3 separate regions of the Homo sapiens genome follow, and all the other regions are linked to region 1. Evidence: fine-mapped expression QTL. A gene starts in region 1. Each other region holds a variant in brackets. All regions are shown on one strand. Distances are from middle to middle. Region 1 holds the start of SRI (sorcin). Region 2 overlaps ADAM22 (ADAM metallopeptidase domain 22). Region 3 has its middle 94 kb from the start of STEAP4.

Region 1 (10,605 bases):
AACATACAATATAATGGACCTAGAAGGAAAGCCCTACCTCCAGCTGTTTCTCTCAACCTTATCACAGACGAACAACTAAATTCAGGGAAAAAAGAGAAGCTGAATTACAATCTTACTGACTGGAACACAACTTCTCTCACCAACTCCACCTCTAGGTATGACTGCTTCCTTTTAAACTGGTTAAGAAGGGCCCATAGGCTCTGAGCTGGAGTATCCCACCTGCTCATCCAATTCGGACCTGTGCTTTTTGGTTTGGAAGTTGGGTTTAAAAGACTAATGGCCATATAATATCTGCATTACAAAACACTGACACCTCATAGGCAGGATGGTTCTGTGGTTCAGTACGGCCACCAGAGAGTAGGCAAATGGATTCAATCACATAGGCCCCATGATTCAGGAAATGCTTTCTCTTTAATGCATTGATCTAAGGCCATCACTAAATGTGGCTTTCTCAATGAAATTTTAAAAGGACTGCTCTCTAACAATATACAACCCATTTTGTTAGTCAGATTCTAAAATCTGCCACACCTCATCTACTGAAAGGATGTAGAATAACAGGCCATGCTGTGATCTCACTGCACTTTGATAAACCCTGCTAATAGGCAGGCCTACCTTGTTTACCAGCTCAATTGCGTAACAATTAACAATTTAAATGTACTGCCTACACAGTAAAGAATAACATCCCCTAATCCAAAAAGTGCTTATTTTGTTTAGGACTAGATTAAATAACAGGAACTTGAAAGGTTCTTCGTTTGTATTAATTCCTCTAATTAGGAAAGAGTAATAGGATACTAAAGTCACATAAAACAAAGGATAATGAAAACAAATGCAAAGAGTTCAAAGACAGCCATCTAATACATGCCATGTCAAATAGTTTTTAAAAAAAGGCCACTATAAATTCACAGCTGTGAATTCTAGTTTGAACATTTTAATCCACAGCTAACCATGAAATTGGGTCTTCAATTTGATGTTTTGTCTCAATTAACAACTGGCAAAGAAGTTGGTAATGTATTTGAACTAAGACATTATTCTCTACCCTGGAAATCTATCATGTTCAAGATCTAATTTCAAGAGGAACCACTTCATATGTGTTGGATGATGAGAAGCCCCCAGTTGGGATGCAGCAATTTTTTGGATTTTCTGAGACAGGCTGTCACCCAGGCTGGAGTGCAGTGGCACAATCTTGGCTCACTGCAACCTCCGCCTCCTGGGCTTGTATAATCCTCCCACCTCAGCCTCCTGAGTAGCTGGGACCACAGGTGCATGCCACCATGCCTGGCTAATTTTTAAATTTTTTGCAGAGACAAGGTTTCACTATGTTGCCCAGGCTAGTCTTGAACTCCCGGGCTCAAGCAATCCTCCCACCTCAGTCTCCTAAAGTGCTGGGATTACAGGTGTGAGCCACTGTGCCCTGCCAGGGATGGAGCATCTTTGCAGTATTTCATTACTCTCAGCTCATGGCAGAGTGTTCAAAAGGCAGGGGTAGGGTAAGGGCTGAATTATGGAGCAGCAGGTCCAGTAAGTAGAAAGGCCACTTCCCACTTAGCCTGAATACATTCTATGAAGTGGAAGAGGAAAGACCTGAGGGATGTCATGGCAACCACTTATGTTAGCAGGAGCATGCCCAAAGCTCAGAGACCAGGAGTGCAGGATAGGCCACTCAGGGACCAGGGGTGCAGGGCAGCAACTCAAAGCCCTAAGTGCCACCAGGTCAGGGCAGAGTAGGCTCTTGGCAAATAACAGTAAATATCAGTTCCTAATGTCAGTTAATGACCCCTGACCTGGCAGATTCCATTTCAGCACCCTACCTTGTCCTCTGTGAAGGAGGCCACCCAAACTGTCTCACTGGTTCTAGGTACACAAAACCCAAATCTGAGAAATCCACTAGATTGGCAGGTAGGATGGAATAATTTATTATTATTATTATTTTAAAGACAAGGTCTTGCTCTGTTGCTCAGGCTGGAGTGCAGTGGTACAATCATAGATTACTGCAGCCAAAAACTCTTGGCTTCAAGCGATCCTCCTGCCTGGGCCTCTGAAGTACTGGGATTACAGGTGTGAGCCACTGTGCCCAGCCTGGAGTGATTTAAAAACTGTTTTCAAATCAACATTTTGAAATAGTACTGTATTTTAGCTTTCGGAATTCTAAACTTTGCTAGATCCGACAAGCTCAGTTTTCTTGAAGGCTGTAATCACAAGTAACAGCTAAGATAGGAAACACAAGAGTATATTTAGACAAACTTTGGGACTGTCAACTTACGTTTGTATCCTCCAGCAATGCCAGACTGTGTCAGACATCTCTGCAATTCATCAGCATCTATCTGCCCATCCTTTTGAAAAAAAATTAGAGGAATCATAATAGTGATTTGTACTTTCAAGTTGTTTACCTTCAGCATTCAATGAAGCAATAACAACAAAGAAAATCAGTATCTTTTTTTTATTTAAAAGGAATGCCTTTTTTTTATTAAAAGGAATGCCTTCCAAAAGTGGGCATTCTTTTCCTTAACCCACTTCCAAAAGTAATTTAATGATGAAAGAAAGAGTCTGTCTTGGCAACTACTCTTCTCTCAATCTGAGCTAGCAAACTGCTACAGCTAAACATTTTAAAATATTTTTTTTTGATGGGGGTGGAGAGAGCAAGGTACAAAGCAGACATCAATAAATAGAAGGCTTGGTTCAAACAGAAAAAGGCCTCCTTGGTCACTTTTTCTTATGATATAGTGAATCATTTTTTTCAGAGCACAAATACATCTGGAAGATTCACATTAGGTTCCCAGTGCCCATTCACTGGCTGAACTGGGAAAGAACTAGATATATGTGATTTTTAGGGACTTTAAAATAAAATACCTAAATCTTCAAGTCACTGGGTATTATAAGTTATAAATGAGGAGCAAGATCAGCAATTTGAAAGACAATGGGTATGCTGAATACAGGCCAGGGCTGCTGAAAGCTAAGCAGGTGGAGTCACTTACATGCTGGAGGCACTGGCAATCTAAGAATGCTAGTCTTGAGGTTTGCCATGCCTTGTGGTTTCAAAGATACAGATCATTAACAGTTTAAGTAGATACTTAAGGGGAAGGTCTTCCAGTTTTAGACTATATTTTCCATTCAATTTCTTAAGCTGTATTTCTTAGAGTACTACCTTAAAAGTGGTCTTAGGTTTTTTATCCCATAATATTCTACAGTTTTCACATTAAGATTTTGCTATTTCTAGCTTTTGGTCAAAACAAAACTAGGTTGAATTCATAAGAACAAACATCTCCTCTGGACGTGTCTGGGTTATACCAACAGTATATTTACTGCACACAGTGACCTCATGAACTAGGGAAGTGTCCTCTCTCAATGTAAGATAGCACCTGTCAATGTAAGATAGCACCTGTCATACAACTCAGAATGCAGACAAGTGAAAGGTCTTGGGGAGCTGACCTTAATTGCTTCTCTGGGTCAACAGGCCAGAACACCTAATAAGGACATGGAGGGGCTGACCTAGTAACAGCATCTGCATCAAAGAGAAACTACACTGTTCACAAGATTAACTTTCTGATACTAAGAAGGGAACAGTAACTTCCTTATTTAGAAGCTGGTGGGTTTTTACCATATTTCCTAAGGGGGTGAATGATTAGCAATCAAGTTCAACCCAAAGAAAGTGCCCATTAGAATCGAGCTATGTAATTACTAATATATGTCTTTAAGTTGTACAAACAAGCGTTTATATTTACCAGATCTTGAATTTTTTCGCTTGAAACCATCCTGGACCCTTTAATTCAACCACAAGTTTGCTTTCGAACTGAACTCACATAAATACGAGTAACACTTTGTCCTCATTTATTCTGAACATTCAGAAATAAAAAACTAAAATAAGAAACAACTTTTTTTTTCTTTTGCAGAAGCAAAGGGACTCAGTACCACAGGAAGTTCGCTTTTCTGTGTCACTATATCAAAAGCTACCACAAATGCAGACAATAACGGCTCTTTAATATTAAAGGGAAAAGCTAACCTGTCCAGCTACAGCAGCAAAGTAACCATACAGCGGATCCTGAGTTTGTCCGGGAAACGCAGGCCCTCCGGGAGCCCCTCCATACTGTGAAACAGGAAACACATACACGTCATTCTGCCGAATCAAGTTTTCTTCTTTCACCACTGAGGGCTTTTGTGCAAGGCCAGACAACTGCCCGCCTGCCCGCCCTTCACAAGGCTCACCTCCCCACCACCGGGCACACTCTGCCAACACTCCACCCCTCTCTTCCATTCACACCCCGTAATTTAAAAACTGGCGACTTAGACCATAAAGAGTTGCTGTGAAAGTGATGTCTACATATGTAAAGCAACTTTTAAAATCCCTATTAACCTGAAGGTTACTGAGGTGAGTGCAAACTAGGTAAGCCAACGAATGGCAGGGCTTCAAATTCTCCTTTTGTTGTTACAGCATTTATGGTATTTTAAGAGCGTTTTATGAACGATGGAAGGCTGGAGTTGGTAACATTCTGAGACGGGTGTAGCCTAGGGAAGAGTAAGGTGTCCGGCCGGGCTGTATCTCGTGGGTGGCGAGGGAACATTGCCTGTCTCGGAAACAGTTCCCAAGACAACGCGCATCCCAGACGCCCGGCGAGGCTGCCTTCCTACAGGTCTTTTACTTCAGCAGGTTTTCCCTTTTTTTCCGTCCCCCTTCTCACTCGTTTTTTGTTTGTTTGTTTGTTTGTTTGTTTGTTTGTTTTTTAAAGGGAGGAAGGTATATCATTCTAGAATAAAATGACTGTTGTTGCTCTGGGAGGCAACCAAGAAGGCGGGGGTGGGGTGGGGTGGGGGTCAGCCAACACCCAATTAACACGATTTCACGCCGCGTATCCGAGAAGCCGCAGGGTGGGCTTCTAGGGTCCCAATCCACCCTCACCTTGGCCCCGCAGGGCCATCCAGGAGAAGGGACGGGGAAACGTGGGGAGAGGCCGAACCCCAGGGGCCTAGGGCGAGGCCGCGAGCGCAGGGAGAAGCCGAGGGCGGAAGGAGCCCGGGTAGCCGCCCAGCAGCGCCTCACCCCGCTGGCCGCAGCATCTCCAAGGTGGCCTCTTAGCGCCCCGGAGCCGCCTGGGCCGCGATCCCGCGCAGTCAGCACTTACCCCGCCTGGGTAGTACCCGCCGCCGGCGCCAGGATGCCCCGGGTACGCCATGCTGCAGACTGCGCCGCAGCCGCCCTCGCCCTGTGCGCCAGGCCTCTCCGCCCCCTGCCCCGCCCCGCCCTGCCGCTAGGGGGCCGCCCCAGAGCGCACCACGCGGGCGTGGGGGACGCGCTCCGCAGTCGTCTCCAGCTCTTGCCTGTGCGCGCGGCCGTGGCTCCCCTGCCTGCGCGCTTCTTCGTATCTTTGCCATTACGGCGCTAATGCAGTGCACGACTGAAGGTCCAGTGGCGGCCTACGACCTGCGAGGCAATTCACACCAGGGACTTTCCTCCCTCCAAAACTAATGGCACATTCCAACACCAATACACCACCCCAGGAATTCTTTTTTTTTTTTTTTCCTTCGGACTTGGCTATTATCTGGCACATTTCTTATTTTAAACAACTTTATTGGACAGGACGGAGCTATTATAAGCGGAGCGCACCATCGCGAGGCAGGGGCTGGATGCGTTAGGGCAAGCCTTAGGTGCCAGTGGGTGAAGGAGTCTTTGAAAGATGGAAATACGAAAGCGCCCTTGGAAAATAAGAATTAACTTGACGAACTGTGTGCAAGGGAGAGTTTGGCTTGCTGTTGGTTGCAGAGTTCACTGAACGACAACGGCGTATTTCCTTCCTAGGGGACAATTCCTTGCCTGTTTAAGCTGAGCGTGACTTGTGTCCTGAGTAGGACAGAGGGCATTTTCCGGGCAGGACAGACTCACACATATCGTTCTTAGGAAAATGAATTGTTTGAATTATCTGGATGATTCAGACAAAACAATCCATTTCCCTAAAAGTATTCAGCTACTTTTTATATAAGAAAAGTTTAGAACAAACTAATAGTGTACTGGTAAGTATTCAGGAAGATAAGAGATAGGAACTTCTATGTAGGTTATTCTTCTTTACTTCATATATTTTTCTATCTTCCAGTTGAATAGTCCGAAGCAATTCAGGCGTGAGCTTTTTGTTTTGTTTTGTGTAATTTCAATGACAGAAAATTGCTTGCCCTTCACTGTTAAGGACTAGACTTAATGATTTCCTGAATTTTAACGTATTGAGAAACGCATTAATAAGCAAGATTCACAGTATTTGTTGTGGAGGTTGCACAGAAACATTTAAAGGGTCATCAACATTTCACAAATATTGGAGCACCCGCCAATGTGGTACTGTGCTTTTTCGCTGTGGTGGACGGGCTTCCTCCATTCTAAATTCGTGGGCTATTGTCCTCATTCGGTTCATTGTTTTTCTCTTGTGTGTAACTTCCCTCGCAAGCCCTTTTGAAAACCAAAGTCCGAATTGTGAGAAAAATTCTAATAGTCCCTGTTGTGGCATAGCAAAGACACTGCATGTTGCCTGTTTTGTGTTTGATTCAGGAAGCAGGTTACTGTTTTCAATCATCAAGGTAGCAATCATCAAGGTAGATGAGACATCTAATGAGTCCCCTGGTCTCTCTTTGGAAGCCTGTTTCTTCAGAAAGAGGTAACCGACTATAAAGAGTAGATGTCAGGGCCGAACTCGATGTTGAGTACAAGCTCAAGACTCAAGTTTGAAAGAAGTATAAAGCATATAAAATATTTTTAAGTACTGCAGAATTAGCTTCGTGGATAAACGGCTATACGAATTGGCATATCAGTTGTCCTTAGACATCTTCCCACTGCTTTACTGCTAAAGAATTGAATTTTTTTTTTAATTACACTTTAAGTTTTAGGGTACATGTGAACATTGTGCAGGTTGGTTACATATGTATACATGTGCCATGCTGGTGCGCTGCACCCACTAACTCGTCATCTAGCATTAGGTATATCTCCCAATGCTATCCCTCTCCCCTCCCCCCACCCCACCACAGTCCCTAGAGTGTGATATTCCCCTTCCTGTGTCCATGTGATCTCATCGTTCAGTTCCCACCTATGAGTGAGAATATGCGGTGTTTGGTTTTTTGGTCTTGCGATAGTTTACTGAGAATGATGATTTCCAATTTCATCCATGTCCCTACAAAGGACATGAACTCATCATTTTTTATGGCTGCATAGTATTCCATGGTGTATATGTGCCACATTTTCTTAATCCAGTCTATCATTGTTGGACATTTGGGTTGGTTCCAAGTCTTTGCTATTGTGAATAATGCCGCAATAAACATACGTGTGCATGTGTCTTTATAGCAGCATGATTTATAGTCCTTTGGGTATATACCCAGTAATGGGATGGCGGGTCAAATGGTAATTCTAGTTCTAGATCCCTGAGGAATCGCCACACTGACTTCCACAATGGTTGAACTAGTTTACAGTCCCACCAACAGTGTAAAAGTGTTCCTATTTCTCCACATCCTCTCCAGCACCTGTTGTTTCCTGACTTTTTAATGATTGCCATTCTAACTGGTGTGAGATGGTATCTCATAGTGGTTTTGATTTGCATTTCTCTGATGGCCAGTGATGATGAGCATTTTTTCATGTGTTTTTTGGCTGCATAAATGTCTTCTTTTGAGAAGTGTCTGTTCATGTCCTTCGCCCACTTTTTGATGGGGTTGTTTGTTTTTTTCTTGTAAATTTGTTTGAGTTCACTGTAGATTCTGGATATTAGCCCTCAAACTATACTACAAGGCTACAGTAACCAAAACAGCATGGTACTGGTACCAAAACAGAGATATAGATCAATGGAACAGAACAAAGCCCTCAGAAATAACGCCGCATACCTACAACTATCTGATCTTTGACAAACCTGACAAAAAGAAGAAATGGGGAAAGGATTCCCTATTTAATAAATGGTGCTGGGAAAACAGGCTAGCCATATGTAGGAAGCTAAAACTGGATCCCTTCCTTACACCTTATACAAAAATCAATTCAAGATGGATTAAAGATTTAAACGTTAGACCTAAAACCATAAAAACCCTAGAAGAAAACCTAGGCATTACCATTCAGGACATAGGCATGGGCAAGGACTTCATGTCCAAAACACCAAAAGCAATGGCAACAAAAGACAAAATTGACAAATGGGATCTAATTAAACTAAAGAGCTTCTGCACAGCAAAAGAAACTACCATCAGAGTGAACAGGCAACCTACAAAATGGGAGAAAATTTTCGCTACCTACTCATCTGACAAAGAATTGAATTTTAATGGAGTGTTGCAAATTCAATTCTTACAATTATTGCTAACAAATTGGTCAGCTGCTAATACTTTAGTTTGCTGGAAAAAATTGTGGCAACTTATAATACCATCAGACATATATATAATAATAAAAATATGCCAGATCCTCATCGCATTTTACTTATTTGCTTAATCTTAATAAAAACCCATGGGATAGGTACTATTGTCATTCCTATTATACAGTTTTGAGGAAGGGGAAGGAACAGAACAGAGCTGAGCTATGCTGCCAAGCCATCTGACTCTAGAGTCTGTGCTCTACACCCAGGGGCAGGTAAAGGGCCAGGTAGTAAATATTTTAGGCCTGTGGGCCATACAGTCTCTGTATGAGAGAGTCTACATACATAGTGGTATGTAGACTATGTAGTCATAGTGGTATGGCCAAATACCACTCAACTCTGCTGTGTAGGCCACAAGTATCCATAGACAATAGATAAATGAATGGATGTCGCTGGGTTCCAATGCAACTTTATTTATAGACACTGAAATTTGAATTTCATATGACATGAAATATTATGCTTAATTTTATTTTTCCAACCATTTAAAAATGTAAATATTATTCTGAGCTCTTGGATGTACAGAAATAGGAGGTGGGTCAGATTTGGCCTTTGGGCAGTAGTTTACCAACCACTGCTGGAAGCCCCTCCAGAATGCGGGCTTATGACTCTGGCAGTTTAGCACTTTAGCAAATGATTTGCTGACTGTAAGATAAAGCCTATGGGTAGAATACAGTTATTTGTCAGAACGATTTACTAAGTCCTAAAAAAAAGACTGTAGGAGGGTTGTGACAACAGCATGGGTTAGGGAGAGAACTATGTGAGGTTTATAGATAGGATGCAGGTCATGGTTATTTTGGGAAGTCATTGGAATTACAGAAACCTTTCTGATCATATACTCCAATCCTGCTGTTTACAGAAGAAAAGACCAAGGCTGAGAGATGGCAAATATCTGGCCCCAGCTCTTGAAGAGCAGACCTAGCCAGATGTAGATATTTCACCCTTCCCAATTAAAGCTGTGACAGTAGATAAACATGCTCTCAGAGAGAATCCCATTCTTTTGTGGTACACCTTCCCTAATTATGTTTTCAAGACAAACGGCAGTGTGGACACTTTCTTATTCCTGGAGAAAAGTTAATATAAAGCTCTACATATAGTATCCAACCTGGACTTCTTCGCTCAGATAAGTGGTGAAAGAAATAGTGTCTAACTAAGTAACTGTAGTTATTTCACCATACCTGCAGTTGAATTAACCATAGGTCTTCACTTGTTAGGAAGAAATGAGCAATGACATTTGCCAATTTAAAGTTTCAATTTTTGTTTAGTTCTGATCTGGGTGTGGCACCTCATGATTTAAAGACCTCTGCCTTAGAGAGAAGCTCAGATCTCCAAATGTAAGTGGAAATGAGCATTTGATAACAACATAGGTAACCAATTAATAGTATCTCCACTTTCTTAAGATTGTTGGGAAAGAGTGTGAAGCCTATGATGTTCATTTGGGAATAAAAGCCACCCTTTTTCTTGAACTGTCCGGAGTAAGAGCTCAGTTAATCATGCTATTATGTAATTTTTTCAAGGGATAGAAAACTTCCACTATTGATGTTTTAGTGCTTGCATGTAGAGTTTAACTGGTCCCTGGCATATTGTAGATGGTAATGAATCATCAACCACAGCTCTTCAAACAACTTCTGCTACAATAGAAATGTTTGATAACTATGCCACACAATAACTAATCACATATGGCTATTGAGCCTGTGAAATGAGGAACTAAAATTTTAATTTAGTTTAATTTAAAATGGAATAGCTGTGTGGCTAGTGCTACCCTCTTGAACAGCACAGGGACCCTTTCATCTGTGTTGGCTTCCTCCTCCCTGGAACTCAGAGAAAGCAAACTCATTCTACTTGCCTGGAATAGGCATGATAAGCAAGATAAATCAGTTATTAACAAAACACAGCAAGGGCAGTCATCAGCTCTGTGACAAACGTTCCCATGTTCCTGTTCCTACAGAATAGATTCTCACTGACCTGTTCCTTCCCTTAATGAAGCTCTGAGCTGGAGTTGATGATCAGGATTAACCAGGAAGCTGATGTTGGAGGAATTTATTATGGCTAAATATATATGCCTATATACATATATGTGTATGTATGTATATCATTGTACATATGTAAATATATGTGTGTATTTTTACAAACACACACACACTTTATATATATACTTTCTTATCATTAGGGCTGTCAAAAATGACCTTCCAAAGATGAGTTCCCCATCACTAGAAGTGATCAAGAAGAGGCTGTCAGTGATGCTAAAGGGCAGTTTTGT
Region 2 (10,332 bases), 22 kb before region 1:
ATCTCAGGACTTTATCTCCTGCCAAGTCTCCTTCTTCATCAACTGGGTCTATTGCCTCCAGCAGAAAATACCCTTACCCAATGCCTCCACTTCCTGATGAGGACAAGAAAGTGAACCGACAAAGTGCCAGGGTATGTGGAAACCTCTTCCATGTGCGTACATGCTCAGTCATTATCATTTATCTATGAGTTTATATTTTAAAAGAGAGAACCATTTTTCCTCCCTTGTTCCTAAGAAAATGAAAAAATCAAACTTGAAAATAAGGAGATTCTTGAGACTTTTGGCTTCAGATTTATATTTGCAAATAGTTTAATCTGCATTGATACAGTCTAGGTACATTTTGTGTAATTAATTGCTATATATTTAATTATTGTAGCTAATTTATTAAAACCTACAGTAAACAAAACAGTGTATTTTGCTATATCACCTTTTACATTTTAATCACACTGCCACTGTCTCACAACATTCCTGAAACATATCAGTATGTGAAATTCGAGATACAGTGGAGCTTAGAGAGGCAGACTGGTCCTCAGAGACTTAAGTGAAAGATGTAACCAAAGAATAATTACCTTTATTGATGTCCAGGCTCTGTTGTGGTCATTTACACTGTAATGTTCATCTTCTTAGAAATAATGTTGCAAAAAAATAAAATAAAGCTTATAAGCCTCGGCAGCTTTAGCTGCTGGTTAGACTCTTTGGTCTTCAGAGATGTTTCGGAATCTCTTTGATCCCAAACCTAAATTATGTGATTCAAGGTAAACGTGGATCATTCAAATTTTAATTTTAACTCAGAGTCAGTAAGAAGGCACAAATAATTAAAAGCTGTGTAGATCACTATAATCCAAAAGTCTTTAAAAACTACCAGCAGTGTTTTGTTAATCATAAAAAATTACCATTATATGTTAATATGAGAAATGGTAAAAGATAACAAGACAATTCAGATTCCCAGCACTCAGCTTTCTGAATTAACAAAAGACTTCTTGATAGATACCTAGTTGTTCATGATGTCATGTGTGATAATGAAATCTGAGACTGAGGTCATTCCTGCCCTCCTCAAATAATTGTCTAAGTGTAGCAACCCACTTTCTGCTAAATTGTCTGCATCCCTGTTTTGTTCCATCAAGTTAGGGACATTCCCTCAGCTGTTGTCATGTCAGAGTTTGGGTTATTGGAGATGTTACCACACAAGAGCCTGTAAAAATGATAGCTCCCTAGAAAAAATGACTGGCCCTGGGCTGAGCAGGTGACCACAAAGGCTCTGGCTGCTGGGATTGTTACCTGAAAAGTCTGATTTGTTCTATGCACTGTGGAACAGCCACATAAGCATGTGGCAGAATCCTACCAAATACACAGCCCCTGTCTCTGGGCTGTCTCTGTGGGCTGTGGAGAGTGGAACAAGCAGATCTTCCTATCAGCAGCCCCTCTGTTACCACCACATAGACGTGGGCCAAGGCATGCCTAGTGCTGAAAGTGATGTTTGGCAATTGCTCATTTTTTCTCACTGGAGTAATCATGACATTCAGGTTTTTCCCAATGTTGTTCATTTGTCCCTCCCTTCTTTCTCCTGTCACATATTATTTTTAATCTTTATAAAACAATATTGAGGAAACTTCAGCTCTCTGAGGCCAGAGTCTAATCCCTTTAGCCCTCCAGACCATTATCTGAGCATCAGTTCAGATCGTCTTTGCTCCAGACCCACCACAAGCCCCATTTAACTCCTCTCCACCACCAGTGTCACCCATTCACGAAGATCCTCACAGTTCAGATATTCCTGTGGTTTACAAGGGGTTGGTGTCTTTTCAATAAAAAGGGCATATAAAATGACCTAAGGTAGATAGCATGGTGGCTTTACCACAGTCCTGTGGAGTAGGCAGACATGGGCATTCAGAACAAGATTTCCATGAAGATTTGGGAGAACATATTAAGGGAACCTATATAGAAACATCTACTTACTCACTTGGCTTTTTCTCCTTTTTCTTTCCCAGAAACTCATTATATATACAGCGACATGCACCAAATGTCCAGTAAAAATGGAATTTGGATGGAATTGGATACAACCTAAGTCACTGTGTTCATAGGCTTTATTTGTTTATGTTTATAATAATTATATCTAAATTCTATTGCCTGGAAACATATTTCATCAGCTTGATCTTCTTTTTAAATTGGTCTTCCTTTTCTGGTGAACTGAGTTGCATTCATATCTGATCATGTCACACTTGTTATTAGTCCATTAAGGTGATTGCTGAACATTGTAGAAATTTGACCGGAACAGGGCCAATATAAAGAGCTCATGGCAAAAGCAAGGAGAGGGTAAGAGGGACAGAATGAATGAAGGGACATCCTGCCTTGAATGTATCCTTCCACTGTGATACCTCAGCTTGTGAGAGAGAACCTTTTATTTATTTTATTTTATTTTATTTTATTTGAGATGGAGTCTCGCTCAGTCGCCCAGGCTATAGTGCAATGTCGCGATCTCGGCTCACTGCAAGCTCCGCCTCCCGGGTTCACGCCATTCTCCTGCCTCAGCCTCCCGAGTAGCTGGGACTACAGGTGCCCGCCACCACGCCCGGCTAATTTTTTTTGTATTTTTAGTAAAGACGGGGTTTCACCGTGTTATGCAGGATGGTCTCGATCTCCTGACCTCGTGATCTGCCCATCTCGGCCTCCCAAAGTGCTGGGATTACAGGCGTGAGCCACCACGCCCGGCTGAGAGAACTATTTTTTAAGGAGGTAGTGATAGAAGTGGAGTGTATGGCAGTGATTTTCAAGTGGGTGATGGTGGAATTGATGGAATCACACTTCCCTGATGTCAGTGGTTTTCTGTCGTGGCTGCACAAGGGAATCATCTGCAAAGCTTTTAAAATATTCTTACGCCTGAGTCCCACCCAGAGAGATTTTGATTTAGTTGGTCTGGTGTGGTGCCTGGGAAGTGGAATTGTAGAAACCTCCCCAGATTAATGTAATGTGCAGCTGAGGTTGAGAACCACTGCTCTAGCTGGCTGTCTCAGAATCCTGGGGAAAGGAAGGGCATGTGTAGCTTAAAAAATAATATTTTAAATTCTTTTATTTCATTTGAGACACAATATTGACTCTATTCAAAATGTTTAGTAACATTAAATGAGGATGTGATGGTTTTTGTATCAAAAGATGGCTGCTGTTAAAAAGGTTGAGACACAGGTTTTGAGGAAACAGAGAGCTAAAAGTTGGAGTGTTTATTCTATCCACTTTTTAGACTTTGCAAGAGTGTGCATCCACAATCACATATATATGGATGGAATCACTGAATCTTTTTCATCTCCTATTCAGAATACATCTGCTTCCTGCTTTCACAATGTGCAATTTTGCTCTTTTCTGTTGTGCAGCTATGGGAGACATCCATTTAAGATCAACTGTTTACATGTGATACATCGAAAACTGTTTACTTCAACTTTTATAGAAACCCAGGCTCATGGAATCACTGCAAATCTATCTGCTCTTCAGACAATACGAAGACCCTCTGAGATGCTACAGAGGAGAGGAAGCGGAGTTTCACATCTGGTTACCATTTTCTTTTTGTCATTGGCTTAGGATTTAACTAACCATGAAAAGAACTACTGAAATATTACACTATAACATGGAACAATAAAGGTACTGGTATGTTAATGGATAATCCGCATGACAGATAATATGTAGAAATATTCATAAAGTTAACTCACATGACCCAAATGTAGCAAGTTTCCTAAGGTACAATAGTGGATTCAGAACTTGACGTTCTGAGGCACATCCTCACTGTAAACAGTAATGCTATATGCATGAAGCTTCTGTTTATTGTTTTCCATATTTAAGGAAACAACATCCCATAATAGAAATGAGCATGCAGGGCTAAGGCATATAGGATTTTTCTGCAGGACTTTAAAGCTTTGAAAGGCCAATATCCCATAGGCTAACTTTAAACATGTATTTTTATTTTTGTTTTGTTTTTTACTTTTCATATTTATATTAGCATACAAGGACAATTGTATATATGTAACATTTTTAAAATTTTAAAAAAATGCAGCTGTTACACACAAGTGTATTTTGCCAAATGCCTAAAAATTCCGTCACAATCACATCATCGTCATCCATCCAGTGATCTTCAAAGACTATAAGCAGGTAATGTAAATATAGTGGTCAATGCTGTAAATGTGTCTCTCCATAATTCGTATTTGTCCAAAACATGTGATATCCCTTTAACCTGTGCACAGTCTGGAGGCAGTTTTATTGAGTGAGTAGTTGAGTGAGAGAACAAAATGCCCAGCAAAACTTCTGGCCTCCACAGTTTGCTGATGCAGGAGCCCACTCTGCTGCCGATGGGCTGCTCCCTGGAAATCATCTATCCCATCCGTCCATCCCATCTCATCCCAGTGAGCCAGCCCCTCAGCAGTGTGTGCTGCTGAGATTAAGCAAGTGCACCAAAGACACATGAGACAACGTACTGCCAGTGAGCTGGTAGCTTCTGGTTTGCCAATACTCTAACCCTTTGTGGCCTGAAGTTTTGTTCCTTGGCAAAACTTTGTAGTCACCCTTATCTGTGAAATGAATGACTTGTTTTAACAAAAACAACTTTGACACTGTTGATTAAGAATATTTGTCATCACTGGGATGTGAATCCCAACAAGTCATTCTGCACTGACTCTGAAGCAAGATGACGGAAGATTCTACTGTTTGAGTTGAGCAGCTTCAACCATTCATAAAGGGTTAAGTTAGATCTAAACCACAGAGATGCAGCATCTGCGAAGTTACACTAACAGCTGGTGGGGGAAAGAATCTGATGCTTTGAAACATATATTTTTAATCCATAGGAAAATAAGATTCTATTTTAAAAGACCCTTCTTTAAAACCAAAGTTTGATAGCTGTTATAATGGCAGATCTGTCATTCCAAAAGAAAGCTAGCTACCCTAGTGAGGCTGGAGATTGATGGGCTCAATCACATGGTCTGCTCTGAAGTATACTTCTGATTTCCTCATTTGCTGTGTGTTCTTAAGAGGAATGGAATCTGCAGACAGGTTTTCAGATATACTCTCTTAAATTTGATCCTCTCCCATAGTATCCATGGACAAAATCCATATCATCTTCATATGTAATCAATTTGATTACATATCATGCCCAAACTGAAGGGCCGAGTTAGAAGGCAGCATTTTATACTGTGTGTTTATGTCTTCTGTAATGGACCTCTCTTTTGAAAGTCTTTGAAATGTTTGGAAAGCAATTTAATGATCCAAAATTACATAATGTAAAACAGCATTTTTCATGACAGGAAGGGATGTGATTGTTGATATGACCATAAAGCGATCCATCAGGCCAAGGTTTGGGTGAGTGTTGGGCAGTGTTGCCACATAGCTCAAGCCAAGAACAGAAGGGCAGACAGATTGAAAGATGTAGCAAATAAAGTGACTTTTTACCAAGATCACTGTAACGTGCACTGAATGTTTCCTGGTACTGAGTGTACAAAAGGCTAATGCTATAAGGTTTATTTTGACTATAAAAGAGTTTATAGATTTGAATATAAGGTGCCTCATGTAAATATGCTTCCTAGTTACAGGTACACAAACTCTAATTTGAAAGAATCCACAAATGGCTAGCTGAGAAGTTAACAGATCTCTATCATTCGTCTGTGTGTCTTTCTTCCCTCACCTATTTTTACATGAAATTATTATTTCAAATGAAAATCATGATCATGTGCCTTTTGGGAGACATGGTTTCTCTAGAGGTATATAGTTTGTAATTACCCGCCTTGGTAATAACCTTCCTGTGGAACTGA[C/A]TAAAAATTTTTGTTTTATTTGTAGAGATTATGATTTGAGGTATACAGTAACTTTAATGTTCTATTCTTGGAATCTACTCTATCTCCCATGTTTAAACATTCTTAGAGCCATTTGTGGGATTCATTGACAAATTTATAGTCTCAAGGGAGAGTTTCAAGAAGTATCTATATGTATACTCATGGTTGGGGTTCTAGAGGCATTACATCTAAATATTTATGACTTTTCATCCACCGAGGTAGGTAGCATTAAATATACAAGCACAGCATTATTTCTCTTTAAATATCTATTTTGGAGAGAAACTTTGAGGCCGTATCACAGTTTATATCATGCAACTAATATTTATATTTCCCAATCCACTACAAAATCATTGCTAAGCAGAAGAGAGCAGTTATTTGGCCTTTATGTTCCATTGTATGCCTTTTTCCCCTCTTCCAGTTTTATGCATTGATAAGACTACAGATTGGCACCCTGCTGCCTGAGAAGTTCCATTTATCCATAGTCATTGCAGTGCAGTAAACCCTGATTTAAAGGAACATTTAAGTCTCTCCAGTAAGTGTGAACAGGAAGGCATGGGATAGAAGAGAGTCCTTATGGAGTGGACTGGCCACATGAACTGTCCTCCAGCCACTCTTTATTTAGATGGGAAGTGGCATGGTCCTCTGAACGCTGCAGGCTGGAAATGATCCCCAGGGCACATGCAATCTGTGGAAAGGAATACATCGGACAGTGCAACATGGTGAGGGCTTTCAATTTGCTGTGGTTGCTGTATTTTTAACAAGACACCCGGAGCTTCGATTAGGAATAACCTATCATTAGAGTTGTTCCTTTAAAAAATGTTGATGAATAAAGCAAATGTGGGTTTAAAATGCCAACTTATTTTTCACTTTGATATTGGTGCTTTATTAAGTGATACCATAGTTTCTCTCTCTTTTCCCTGTTACTTTAAAAAGAATTTTAAAATTGTGTTTGTATATAAGGTCAGTCTGGCATAGAATTTCTGAAAGTAACATTAATAGGATTTCTAAAGAAGTTGTCAGAAAGACAAAATTGGATATTCTCTGCACTTTCAGAGAAGGACTATTTATGTTTGAATTTCATAACAGGCTTACATTTCTTTTCTATTGATTCCCTTGCATATCTACATAATTTAATCCTGTCTATTGTCCCAGATCTCTTGTGGCTACTTTACCTGTTACCTTTTTTGGGATTTTGTTCTTTATGTTTTACAGTTACCTTCGGACCAGAAGATATATGGTATTTTTATTCACTTTTTTCAGTGTTTTAAAATAAGGTTTGTTCATTTATTCATTTTATCCATTCATTTCCTATTGTCGTATAGTTCTAACCATATATATAGTACTTTAAATATTTTCTTATGTTATTATTTAACACAATAATAAATTCTTATCTAAAGAAAAGATTATTTTACTTTATTTTACTTAAAGGAAAGAGAATTTATTGGCAGGATATTGAGTAGCTTGTAGAGTATATGGAAGGGGAGAGCCAAGTTAGGAACTGGCAGGAGCGAGGAGGGACAAGACAGCTGCCTGCACAGTCTGATAGGACACATCTGGCTGCTGCCACTGGATGCCCACATGGGCAGCGTGTTGTAAATATCACCCTACCAGTTGGTAAGTTGGCATGAATTTTCCATGAAACACTTGACTGCCATTTGCAGCATCATATCTACTTTTTATGCACCTAATTATATTTTTCCTTTCACTTTTATGTTTTTTTCTAAAACTGCCACCTAAATACCTTTCCACTCCGTTAAATGTATGGAGTCAAGATAAATTTCTCATTCTTGCTCTACAGTTTAAGATGTATAAGAAGTAAACACTTCCGTGGAATAGGGCTTAATTTGGGGCTCAAATGTTTTGTTTTCCTCCTGAGATGTTTTTGAATGGATAAGACTACTCTGGTTTTGGATGCAGCAACTTTTCTCCTGGCATGGAAGAACTAAGGACTTTGATAAACAGTTTCCCATTGATAGTATAATATAATGAGGGGCCCAGTCTGCTCTTGTGAAAATTGGCTGAGCGGCAGCAGCCCATCCCAGCTGTGTGTGAGTAGCCCCGCTGTTAAAAGTACACCTGCTGGGAATTGTTGGCACATGCTCATAGCATATGCTCTGTGGGGGAGGTGCTTTTAATTCCAAGAGGAGCTTTTCTCCCACATCTGCGGATGCAGAACAAAGATGCAGCAGGACTTTAGAAAACAGGAGTGTTTCTACTGACATTTTATTCATTGCTTTGTTAGTCCCGCAAATGGAGCAACTTCTGGTTGTTTGTAAGCAGAAAAACAAAACATTCAAAACCAAAAACCTAATTAGTACTTTTGTCCTTTATATCCCTAGGATGCTCTAGGGAGTAGAGGTGGCAGGCATCTTTATCTTCACCCACTGGCACATTAGCAGCTTATGCAACTTAGGAAGTCACTGGGAGATGAGTCCTAAAAGCCTGAATTTCAGGATGGGGAGGAGATAAGAAGCAGAGAACTTTGGGAGACCATGGGGCATTTAGTCCTGGCATAGACACAGAATGGATATTCACAGGAAGATTCCTGAGGCCAGATATGCAGGAGAGCACACATTGTCACAAGGGGTGTGGTGGGAAGAGAGGTGCTGGATGCCTAAGACAGACTTCTGTGCTTGGCAGATTGACTGAGTGTTGACTCTGAATACTTTGTGGTCCAGTCCATAATAGGCCAGTCACTCCTGCCTGATGCATCCCTGTTGCACTGTTCATAAAACCTGTATCATATGGGGAAGCTTCAAGGCTGGCAGGCTTTTCATCAAGTAATCATCATTCCATGTTCCTACGTATCCTTGAAATCAAAACCAGGCAATATGTGTGTTTTTGGTTTTGTTTTACAAAAAGGCATACAATGAGACGAATTCTTAAGATAATGCACATACAGAATCATCAATAAAGTTTCAAAGAGTTTATGAAGAAAAGGTATTTTCCTTTCTTGTAAAAAATGTTATATATATATAATATTCTGATCTGCATTCACCTTAGGGCTTAGCCTCTTATTTTATGAATTTTCAGGCTGTGATTTGTGTTGGATGGCTAAGCTCTAAAATAATGCAAATAGCCCCAATCTTTAAATATAGCGGTGCTAAGTTGAACAAGTAACACAATACAGAAAATGCTGATATGAATACTTAGTAATAATACAAAAGTTCCTGCTAAATTATATATGTGTATCACTGCCTGACTAGAAACCCCACTTTTCTTTTCTAATCCAGCACAAAATCAAACTCTGATTCTACAACCAGTCTTTTTAAAGGGCAAAAATGACTCAACACCTTTGTTTTGTATGGAAAACTTTTTTTTTTACACTAACTGCAAAACTGCTTTAAAAAAAGGCTTATTCAGGATAGATAAGCATGTACTCCTTTTTTAACTTGCTGGAAGACTTGCCCCTCCAAACTAGCACCCCCAAAAGACAACTTCTTTCAGAAACGGGGTGTTTTACCTAAACATAGTAGCTTACATGTTAGCCAGCAGTAGGTCGGCACTAGTGTTTTCCACGGTTATCACCTTTGACAGGTGATGTGCATCTATAGATAGTGGAAGCCACCCCATGAGGAGGTGTTAATAGCAGCATGGTTTCACTTTTGGTAATCAGGTAATCATGTGTATATACTTAGATTCGCATTATTTTAACATTTCTCTGCTACTCTGCACTTCAGGTTCGTTAAGCTATTTTAATAATTACTGGGGTTATGGCAAACACCAATGGAAATGTATATGGCAACTGCTTTCCTGAGCAAGTGTGATTTGTTTTATGGCTGTTCAAGTTATAAAATTGTTCTTACATTGTAGGTAAACAAAATCTTGATGTTTTTAAAGGTCACTGTAACTTAAGGTTCAAATTTCTGGCACAGTTTTATTAGTATTCACTTCGGAAGCTAATAAGATACCATGGTTTTCTATGTTACTCCCATTGTAACATTAGTAAAGTGACTTTCAATAAAAGATTTATGTTATTTTGATGCACGACTCTTCTTTTTCTCCCAGCTAGTTTCTCTTTCAGAAGCTTTGTTAGGGGTACAGTCAAGGGATTGTTTCTTTCCTGTTCACTGGTGTCCCAGAAGGGGTCACTAACATGATGAGAAATACAACCCTTTAGCAAAGCCTGAGTGCTCGATTTGTTGCAGTTTCCTCATCTGGATGGCAGAGGTAGTTTACTTATTTATCTATTTGCCTCTCCTTGTAAGCACTTCCTCTCTCACCCTAATGAGGATCAATTTCCTATATCCTGTCCTGTAGACCAGGCAGTGGTGCTTAGTTAATAAGGTCACCTGTGCTGCATTCTAAAGCACTGAGCCTAGGATGGGCTCATGAGTTCATTGCCTAAAAACTGTTCCACCCTGGCTTTTTCATCTTCCAGGCAGGCATTTTACCTACCCGTCATTATTCTGGCATTTGCGGGGTCCTTGCCATCTGTTCATAGGCTGCATAGTTAATAAGTTATAAGTAGTCAAGGTATTGTTTTAATGTGAGAAAAAGAGAAGGAAGTCACTGATGAAGGGTTTGTACATTT
Region 3 (10,605 bases), 180 kb after region 1:
TTCAAGTTGGCTTCTATATCTTCTTGTTATTCTCTTATACTTTTTAGCACTTATTTTTATTCTGGAACATGAAGATGTTTCTGATTCATTTCATACCTTCCATGTCCCAGCCCTAGGATTTAACCATTTCTCCAAGGACCCCTGGTTCCTTTTAGTGGGGAAAGATATTTGGAAACCAAGGTCTGGGTGATATTGTATTTTATTAATAAAGTCAATCATTAGAGTGAGCATAGTAATGTATGATTATGGGAGCAGATATTGTGAAAACTAGAAATTTGGAATAAAGTTGCTCATCAATTACTTAAACCAAAAAGGATGAACGCATTTAATTAAGAAAATACATAGTTAAATTTATGATAGTTGATTTTCAGTTTTTTTAAAAAGCATTATTAGAGTCAAGAAAAAGGAAACAATATTTTATAATCTATTATTTTTTTTTTTAACCAGTAAGCAGTGTTGTTTTTGTTACAAAAAACTGCCACAGCCTCATGCTTCTGCAAAATGAATGACACTGTTTAGGTCTAAATCAGTTGCGAAATGACCAAATTGTGGCAGTGACAAAATAGACTTGACATATAGCTACGTTGCAGATATGTATTTGAGAAATAGGGTATTGATGCAATCGATGAGTTTAAGAAACAACAGCTGATTCAGAAAGGAAGACATGGGCGATGGACAGGTCAGATCTGTGCTGTGGCTGAATCCTGAGGAAGTAGCAAAATATTACACTCCAAAGCAGGAAGAAAGTTAACAGAGATAACCACTGAAAAGTGAAATGTGGAAATCAAAAGCTCTGTCTAGAAAAATTTAAAAAATGGTGAATTAAAACATATAAAAAACAAAAGTAAGTTGCTCGACTAAGTCTGAAAACAATGTGTTGTTGTGAGAACACATACCTAAGTAGCCTCACAATACTAGGAATGAAGTTATTAATAAGTCTAACACATTTTCTTTGAGATACAGAAAACTTATTTATAAAACTTATATTAACACATATAGTAATGAAATTTATTAAGCCATATTGCCCCTAATGGCAGGATGTGGGATGGTGGTGGGTGTTACAGGCAGAGGGTTGGCTAATGATGTCACTTGCAAATATTCAGGGGCTTTACCATGTGGAAGAAGGTATTTTCAGTTTTGATGCTAAACAGGAAGTAACATTTCTGGCAAAAAGAGTAAAAATACTATGATATTGTCAAAATATGAAGAATACTGATGTTTATCATAGCAGAGAGAACAAAGACCCAACGTATGAGGTTACTTGGAGAAAGGAAGGTCACTGACTCATTCAGACTTTTCCTTTAGCAAGTAGAGGACGAAGTCAGTGTCTCACAGAACATGATGGAGGAAAACAAAGTAAGAATCAGTGGTTAATACCTAGTGCTTAATGATTTTACTGTAAGCAGTGCATGAGTGACAATGAAACATTTTGTGCAATATGCTAGAAATATCAAAATAGGACTTACATAGGGTACACATGATCACCAGACTTGAAAGAAGAGGACTATAGAACTGAGCAGAGAATACAATATTTTTGTGATGACTGTGACTGAGAGGCCTCCTCAATTCCTTAGTGAACAGAAATTGGAAGTTGCCATCAGAACTTTGTATGTCCTGTTTGCACTTATAGATAATAAAATGTGTTTAATTATTAATATACAAGGGGGTTGAAGAGTTTGGTTGATGGATTTCACCCTAGAAACCACAACTGTCACCTATGGGAAGCTGTTTGGTACAGGCAGACTTTCACTCAGTAATAACTTTGTTCAGGTGACTAATTACAGGATTTTCCTAACATTATAAAAGCCTAGAGATGGGCTTTTTGCATGACAAGAATAATCAGACCTGGAGATGAACTCATATTATGTGTGCAATGCTGATTAGAGCATAGACACTTGTTTAACAGTTTGTGCTGAATGACTATTATGATCACATGGGAGTTTTCACATTTCTCCCTGCTGTGGACTCAATTGTGTCCCCATCACCACACCCCCATCCAATTAATGTATTGAAGCCCTGACCCTCAGTGTGATGATATGTGGAGATGGGAACTTTGGGAGGTAATTAGGGTTAGATGAGGCCTTGGAGGGTAGGGCCTTTATGATGGCATTAGTGGCTTTATGAGAAGAGGAAGAAAGAGAGCTCTCTGTCTGCCATGTGAGGATAGAGTGAGAAGGTGGCCATTTGCAAGTGAACAAGAGGGCCTCACCAGGAAGCTCATAGGTTGGCACCTTGATTTTGGATTTTCCAATCCCTGGAACTATACATGTCTGTTGTTTAAGCCACCCAATCTATGACATTTTGTCGTAGCAGCCCTAGCAAATTAATTCGTGCTCTCCAGGGCGCATGCCACTTTAAAAGGCAGCATTGTGTAAGGCTTAAGGGCACAGACTCTGCCACCTACCATCTGTATAATCATAAGCAAGTTCCCCATTTTCCTCATCTGTAAAATGGGGGTAAAAATAATTTCTACTTCTACCATGTAGGATTATTGTGAGGCTAAAATATGTTAATGCATATAAATTGCTTAGAAAATGTCTGGTATGTGGAAAGGACACATTATACGTTAACCCTTGTTGTTTGTTGAGGAAGTTACCAAGGTATGGTCTTCGGCTTTGAACTAGGTGGACACAGAGTATCACAGTAATAGATGGAAACTAATCAAACGTGTGAAAAGATGTATAATCCTTATGAGTAATTTATTAGTACCCAAGGGGTGATAACTTTTTCCAATGATGGAATGCTGGTGCCCTTATCCAGAGCATTGATTTTTCTGGTATTGAGGGACCTACCAATTTCAACTTTATCAAAAAATGCTTGGGATCATGAATTCAGAGAGGAAGAGAGTATTTCAGGCCATTCAAAAGTGAGGCTTGATGAGTTCATTTCCACTACCCACGTAACTATATATGCTCCTTTGGGTCACATGCAGAGTAAGCCTCACCTGGAAAGTGCTGGGTAAACAGTACCACCTTAAGGTCTCAGGAATTACTCAGGTTTCATTTTTTCCTTTCATGTTTATGTTGACTCTGCCTTCTATTTATAGTCTTTCTCCTGAGATGTTAGAATGCAATCAGTTAATTTCAGTTTAGTAGACTTCAATTACATAGTCTTTTCCTTTGGAGGATAATTATTTCTCTGTGTTTGAGTCTGGGGTACTTTAAGACTCTTCAGTTACATGTTTGTGGATATTCTCCTCAGAATTTTTCTAACCACTAGCAAAGGACAGCCAGAGTCTTTTGTGGAAGGGATCCTGGGCCTGAGCAAATATTCTATAAAAAAGCATGGTTGTTCTTCTTAATCCCAGAAGTCTGTTTCCTGTCCAACATTTTCCAGGAATTTTAAAGGATGACATGAAGAAAGCAGAAGCAGTTGGAGAGAAAGAAGATAAATGATAAATAGATGGCTGTAGAGAACAGATCATGGCTGTGAGTGAGGTACAGCTCCTAAAGGAATTGCAAGGAGAGAAAAAAAGATACTCTCTTCCAACTCTATTATTTTTCAACGTGGGGTAACTTTCCACATAGTTCCATTTACAAGAAAATAAATTCCTTTATTCTTCTGGGAAAACAGGGAAGTATATATCCTTTGTCCCCAAATAATTTCAGATGCTACTTTGTGGAAAGCAAACAAACAAAAACCCAAACAAAATTATTGTGTGAATTTTACTGGCTAGCTCTTGACTGCAACCTTATTTCCAAGTTTTCAGGAGCTGCTTCACTGTTTTCTTATGAATGGGTTACAAGGACTGTGGGATAAAAGTGATAAAGAGACTCGTGGGGACCAGGAGCCGGGGATTCCTGTTCGAGCGGCTACCCGAAGTGCGTTTGGAAGGTCATCAAGACCCGAGAACCTTTATGGTTCTTTTTTTTTTTTTTCTTTTGGTCGACAAAGAAGGCTTCCCCTGGGAGAGGGGGAGTGATAAGCTGCTTACGGTGTGACCTGTGAGGTGCTAATGAGGTCAGATAGTATCTTCCTCATTGGCTTGCCATGGAGCTGGCAGTCTTCACCATTAGAATGCCTCTAAGGATGGTCACCAGAAAAACCTCTATTCAGAAGAAATGTTACCTTGGAGGCAGTGGCATATTAGCCCAGACACTAGCTTGAAAATAGTATGTGCAGGGAGAGAGCTGTGGGTTTGAGGGGCTGAGGGTGTGAACAAGGCTAGCACATTTTGTAGAAGGGTTTGGGAGATAGAGTATGGTGAGCAAAGTGCAGAGGGGCTTTGCAATTGCCCTCTCCTTAGCAGAGGACCTCAGACTCCAAGTGGCAGATAAAGGCACAGAAGTGGGAGAGCAGTGACTAGAAGACCAGCTGGTTTGTCCTGGGTGGGGTAACTCTTTAAGCATTCATATTGCTTGTATTAAAATGGTATTGTAAACTAGCTAGTGTCAAACCCCAGATATCTGTGCGGAGCGAACCACTGCTGAACTTCAAGGGAGAAAAAAGCTTTTTTTTTTTTTTTTTTCTTTTTGGTTTTCTGAATCCTACTTGGCAGTTGTTTTCATCTCCTGGTAAGAAAGCATGATCTATAGCGTGGCTCTATTGAACTAACCACACTGAGGCATTGTTCCA[G/A]TCCATTTGGATGCTTCATTTCAATAAGGCCTTTCTCCAGTTCATCCAGTTCAGGGGAGTTATCACCCAGCCAGGTTTGCATATTTTTCTGATTCATGGCTTCACATATCCTGAGTATTTCTCATTAGTTTCGGAAAAGAAAGGAAAGGGCCTCATGAAGTCCTCACAACAATCTTGAGCTGTCTTCTGGTTTGCAATCTGTTTAATTGGAATGGAGCCTACCGATTTCAAAATGAGTCATCTGTTTTTCTCTTGGAAGAGATGTCTTTCTTTTTCTTAAAATTGATAATTTTATGAACATAGGCATTTTGTAAGTATCTATAAATCTGTAGGAGTTTTTTTTTTTTTTCCAAACTGCACAAAACCTAGCCATTACCCAGTGAACTGCTAGTACTGTCACTTTCTATGCCAGGATTTAGTTCGTGCGGAATTGTTAATATTGCTTGTACAGTGTTATACTATATATTAATATGAAAAAGTAATATATCACCACATGACTTAAGGGACTTGATAGTTGACATGAAATTATGATCATGTACAACTCTAAAGCTATGTACAAAAAGATGAAACTGAATCATTTCATTGACTACAGTACATTTTCTCCCCAAATAAATTGATTTTAGATGAATTCCCTTCATCTCTTTCACCCTGCTGGGCCCGGGTGCTTGCTGTGAGACACAGCTAAGTAGGAAAGAGGCTGTTGTTATTTGATAGCAAATTAATTCAACAATTTCAACAAACATTTATCGAATGCCTACTATACACCAAATATAATGCTACGTGCTAGGCATACAAAGAGGAATCAGGTATCGTTCTTGTTTTCAAGAGGTTCACTATTGAGTGAGGCCAGAGAATTGTTTATGATTAGCCAGAATTCATGTGGTAAGTGGTCTCTTAGTGCCAATGCAAAGAGAATGTGAGGAAAAAAATGATTTCTATTCTTGGGTGACAGCCGAACTGGACTTTGAATCTTAGCAGGTGAAAACCTGGAAAGGCTGTTTCAGCAGAAGTCAAAAAATAAAAACAACATTCCATAAACTTTAGATTACCTGCTAGGTATCTGGCTACAATGCACTAAGACTTAATCTGGCATCAGAGATGAGGATTAAATCTCTCCCATCAATCTGTAAACTAACATTTATATATTGTTTTATAATAGAAAAGTGCTTTCCTGTGAATTATAGCATTTACCCCTCACAGAAACTCTGTGAAGTAAGAATTACAGACATTCCTTTGCTTCAGTATATTCAGATTACAAATGTTTCCTAATCCATACAGTTCCTCTGCAGAATAAAAATCTATCAATTCTGTTTGCTACCAACAGATGGCGATAGTGGTTGCATATGGTTGGTAGCCGCTCTGGGCCTCTGTAGTTTGCTCATAATCAATTGTATACATAACATTTGTGTTAGTTTTAAGTATTTCACAAGTACAGTCATGCTTCACTTAATAATGGTTATACATTCTGAGAAATACCTCGTTAGTCCATTTCATCAAATTGCGAACATCATGGAGGGTACTTACACAAACCTAGATGGTACAGCTTACCACACACCTAGGCTAGAGGGTATAGTCTATTGCTCCTAGGCTACAAACTTGTTACTGTACTGAATAGTGCAGGCAGTTGTAATACAATGGTAAGTATTTGTGCATCTAAACATAGAAAAGGTACAGTCAAAATATGGTATAGAAAATAAAAGCTAGTATGCCTGTGTGGAGCACTTACCATGAATGGAGCTTGCAGTACTTGAAGTTTCTCTGAGTGAGTCAGTGACTGAGTGGTGAGTGAAGGCCTAGGACATTACTGTACACTACTGTAGATTTTATAAATGCTGTACACTCAAGCTACACTACATTTATAAAAATATTATCTTTAATTAATAATAAATTAACCTTAACTTACTGTAACTTTTCTAGTTTATACACTTTTAATTTTCAACTTTTTGACCGTTTTGTAATAATATAACTTAAAACACAAACACATTGTACAGCTGTACAAAAATATTATCTTTTAAAATATATTTATGCTATAAGCCTTTTTCCTAAAATTTTCTTTAATTACTTTTGTTAAAAATTAAGACACAAACATATACATTAACCTACGTCTACCCAGGGTCAGGATCATTGATAACACTGTCTTCTACCTCTATGTCTTGTCCCACTGGAGGATCTTCAGGGACAACAACAGGCATGGAGCTGTCATCTCTTATGATAATAACGTCTTTTTCTGGAATACCTCCTGAAGGACCTGACTGAGGCTGTTCTACAGTTAACTTTTTAAAAATATAAGTAGGCTAGGCGCAGAGGCTCATGCCTGTAATCTCAGCACTTTGGGAGGCCAAGGGTGGCAGATCACCTGAGGTCAGGAGTTCGAGACCAGCCTGGCTAACTTGGTGAAACCCCATCTCTACTAAAAATGCAAATTAGCTGGGTGTGGTGGTGGGCACCTATAATCCCAGCTACTTGGGAGGCTGAGGTAGGAGAATTGCTTGAACTCAGGAGACAGAGGTTGTAGTGAGCCGAGATCATACCACTGCACTCCAGCCTGGGTGACAGAGCGAGATTTTGTCTCAAATATATATACACACACACACACACACATATACACACACACATACACACACACGTATGTGTATATATACATATATGTATATATATATGCATGTATATATGTGCATATATACACATATGTATATATGCACGTATATACATATATACATGCGTATATACATACATGTATGTAGGTATACATGTGTATGTATATCTACATGTGTATGTATATATACATGCGTATGTATATGTAGATACACATGCACATGCATATCTACACACATGTATGCAGATACACATGTGTATGCATATCCACATGCATGTATATACATGTGTATGTAGCTATGCATATATGTATACATACATGTGCATGTAGATATACACGTGTATATCTACATGCATGCATGTATGTATATACACATGTATATATGTATATATGCACGTATATACATGCATATACATGTATATATACACATATACATACATATATATGTATGTATATATGTAAAAGGAGTATACTTTCTAATAATAAGTATAGTAAGTACATAAACCAGTAACACAGTTGTTTATTATTATCAAGTATTATGTACTATATGTAATTGTATGTAGTATACTTTTATATGACTGGCAACACAATGGGCTTCTTTACACCAGTGTCACCAAGAATGCTGTAATGTTATAATGGATACAATGTCACTAGGTGATAGGAATTTTTCAGCCCCATTATAATCTTGTGAGACCACCATATATGCTGTTCATTGTTGACTGAAAGGTCCTTTATGCAGCGCATGACTGTTTTATTAACTGTGTTATGTACAGTAAGTGCAAAGACAGAGAGAATGTGGCAAATGTTGGTAAGGTGTTTATAGCATGATGGTGCCCCCATCACGTCCCCCTGGCCTGCTTTTGATGTTAGCTGCAGCCATAGTGTACAGTTCTGTGCAGGCACAGACATCTATCACATACCAGTGTCACCCCTCAAGAGTGCATTGTATTCTGCTTCAGGGCCTTCTCTGGAGTTATAGAAGCTCACTCAGACCACATCCAAATGCAGCCCTCTTGGGTACTGGGAAGTTAATGTATTGAAGGCAACCCTCAACCGATGTTGGGAGGAGCCTATGGATAAATCTTCTTGTCCTTTCAGTAGACAATTATTATTATTATTATTATTATTATTATTATTTTTTTTTTTTTCCTAGATGGAGTCTTGTTTTGTCACCCAGGCTGGAGTGCAGTGGCGTGATCTTGGCTCACTGCAACCTCTGCCTCCTGGGTTCAAGCAATTCTGCTGCCTCAGCCTCCCGAACAGCTGGGATTACAGGCTCCTGCCACCACACCCAGCTAATTTTTGTATTTTTAGTAGAGACAGGGTTTCACCATGTTGGCCAGGCTGGTCTTGAACTCCCGATGTCGTGATCCGCCCACCTCGGCTTCCCAAAGTGCTGGGATTACAGACATGAGCCACCACACCCGGCCTAGTAGACAATTCTTAAATCATTCCTGTGAGTCCTGGTCAAATCGAGCCCCTGGTGCTACAGCACTTAGTTCAGTAATAAACCCTTTTATTGGCTTTTCTTCCTTCCCTATCCTTCTCTACTGCCTGATAGCACATTTACTTAGAGATTGTCTTCTTCTTCAGAATATTAGCTCCATAAGGACAGGGGCTTTGTTTAGTATCTCAAAGTGTTCCAGGGAAAGACTGGTGAATAAATATTTATTGAATAAATTAATAAAGACATATGACAGCAAAGAAGAAAATAGCTGAATTTAAAACTTTAAAGGAATAAACTCATACTCTCATGTTGTAGAAATGCATTGATGCCTGCAAGATTAATCCTTTCTCTGTCATTTTGGACTACAAACAGGTAAACTTGAAATCTAACTGGTTGATGGATAAAGAACTATATGATACTGTCATATTTTGTATATGAGAACATTGAGCCTCAGGTAGACCAAGGACTTGGGCAAGACAGAAGAGAATGGATGAGGCTGTGGCAGGTTGAATAATGCTCATCCAAAGTTATCAAGTCCTGATCCCTGGAACTTTGGATATTATTTTGTTTGGAAAAAGGGTCTTTGTAGATGTCATTAAGTTAAAAATCTTGAGATGAGGAGACAACTCTGCATTATGTGGGTGGGCCCTAAATGCCACCATATATGTCCTTAGAGGAGCAAAGGGAGATGACACAGACACATAGAGGAGGAGACACATAGAGGAGAAGATAAGGTGAATTTGGAGCAGAGGGGGCTGCAGCCACAGCTAAGGACAGCTGCCACAGGTTAAAGGAGGCAAGGAATGGAACTCCCTCTAGAGAGTGCATCCCTGCCAACACCTTGATTTTAGACTTCTGTCCTATAGAACTAATGCATAAATACTATCTAATATAGAAAACAAATACTATCTATTGTTTTAAGCCACCCAGTTTGTGGTAATTTGTTATGGCAGCTCTAGGAAACTAGTACAGAGGCCCAATAAATTTGTGAACTCTCACTTTGAAGAGTCTCAGAAAAAAACAAAATTTCACCAGAGTCAGCAGTCCACCTTGTTAGCATCTTCAGGTCCTTGGCGAGATTCCTTTATGGAAAACTATCCTTTTTTCCCTTTCAAATAGTCTTCATGAAAGACCAGTTAGAGGCAGGGAAGAAGCTCTAGTGGTCTTTGACTCACTAGTCATGCCCTCCAGTGACCATCTTAGAAGGGAGTCAGGGGTGATCATCCAGGCACCACCATGTTAGAGCTTGGTGCATATTAAGTCTTCTTTCACTCTCCCTCCAGCATATATACAACCAAACACACCACATTTTACACACCCCCCAACTCTCCCCAAACACACCACATTACAGTACAACATGCACACATGTATGTGCACACACAGCTGTGCTAATAGCAATAACAATGTGCCACTAAGAAATATCTTGTAACAACCCAAATGCCTATCGATAGATGAATGGATAAACAAATTGTGGTGTATCATATAATAGAAGGCCACTCACCAATGGAAAGGAATAAACCACCATTACGTACAATAGCATGGATGAATCTTAACAATATTATGTTGAGTAGAAGTAACCAGACATACAATGTACATGCTGTCTGACTCTATTTATATGAAATTGTAGAATAGATAAAACTAATCTATAACAAGAGTGGATTAGTGGTAGCCTGGGGCTGGGGAATGGGAGATTGATTGCAAGAGAGTATGAATGAGCTTTTGGTGGGATGGAAATGCTCTATATCTAGGTTGCAGGGTTGATTAGTTGGTTACATGGTTGTACACGTTTATCAAAACTCATAGAACTTGTACATATAATGTAGTTGCATTTTATTGTATGTAAATTATACCTTGATAAAACTAACCTAAGAAAGAAAAGTAAAAGATACTTTGTGCCACTTTTGGCATGGATGATCTAGCTAAATTATGTTGTGTGAAAGTCCAAATATTTTATGTCAGGAAATACTATTTCCTCATATATTATAAG

What was found.
Region 2: its variant is fine-mapped to the expression of SRI in whole blood (TOPMed, PIP 0.93).
Region 3: its variant is fine-mapped to the expression of SRI in lung (TOPMed, PIP above 0.99).

Annotation. Positions count from the first base shown.
Region 1 is chr7:88,214,862-88,225,466 of GRCh38, forward strand. SRI (sorcin) reads right to left here and starts at 5,177. Exons shown (of 8, transcript NM_003130.4): 1 at 5,115-5,177; 2 at 3,998-4,081; 3 at 2,261-2,330. The coding sequence starts at 5,165. SRI-AS1 (SRI antisense RNA 1) reads left to right here and starts at 1,799. Exons shown (of 3, transcript NR_120517.1): 1 at 1,799-1,896; 2 at 3,888-4,363. LOC124901691 (a long non-coding RNA gene) reads right to left here and starts at 1,723. Exons shown (of 2, transcript XR_007060419.1): 1 at 1,582-1,723; 2 at 1-75. RefSeq lists silencers at 4,163-4,252, 4,900-5,399.
Region 2 is chr7:88,193,109-88,203,440 of GRCh38, forward strand. It overlaps ADAM22 (ADAM metallopeptidase domain 22), which reads left to right. Exons shown (of 32, transcript NM_001324418.2): 31 at 8-131; 32 at 3,363-9,781. The coding sequence ends at 3,383. Among named protein-coding and RNA genes, the nearest start is that of SRI-AS1, 18 kb to the right of the region's middle. The variant C/A (reference allele first, on the strand shown) is at 5,781.
Region 3 is chr7:88,395,302-88,405,906 of GRCh38, forward strand. No RefSeq gene overlaps it. Among named protein-coding and RNA genes, the nearest start is that of STEAP4, 94 kb to the left of the region's middle. The variant G/A (reference allele first, on the strand shown) is at 4,576.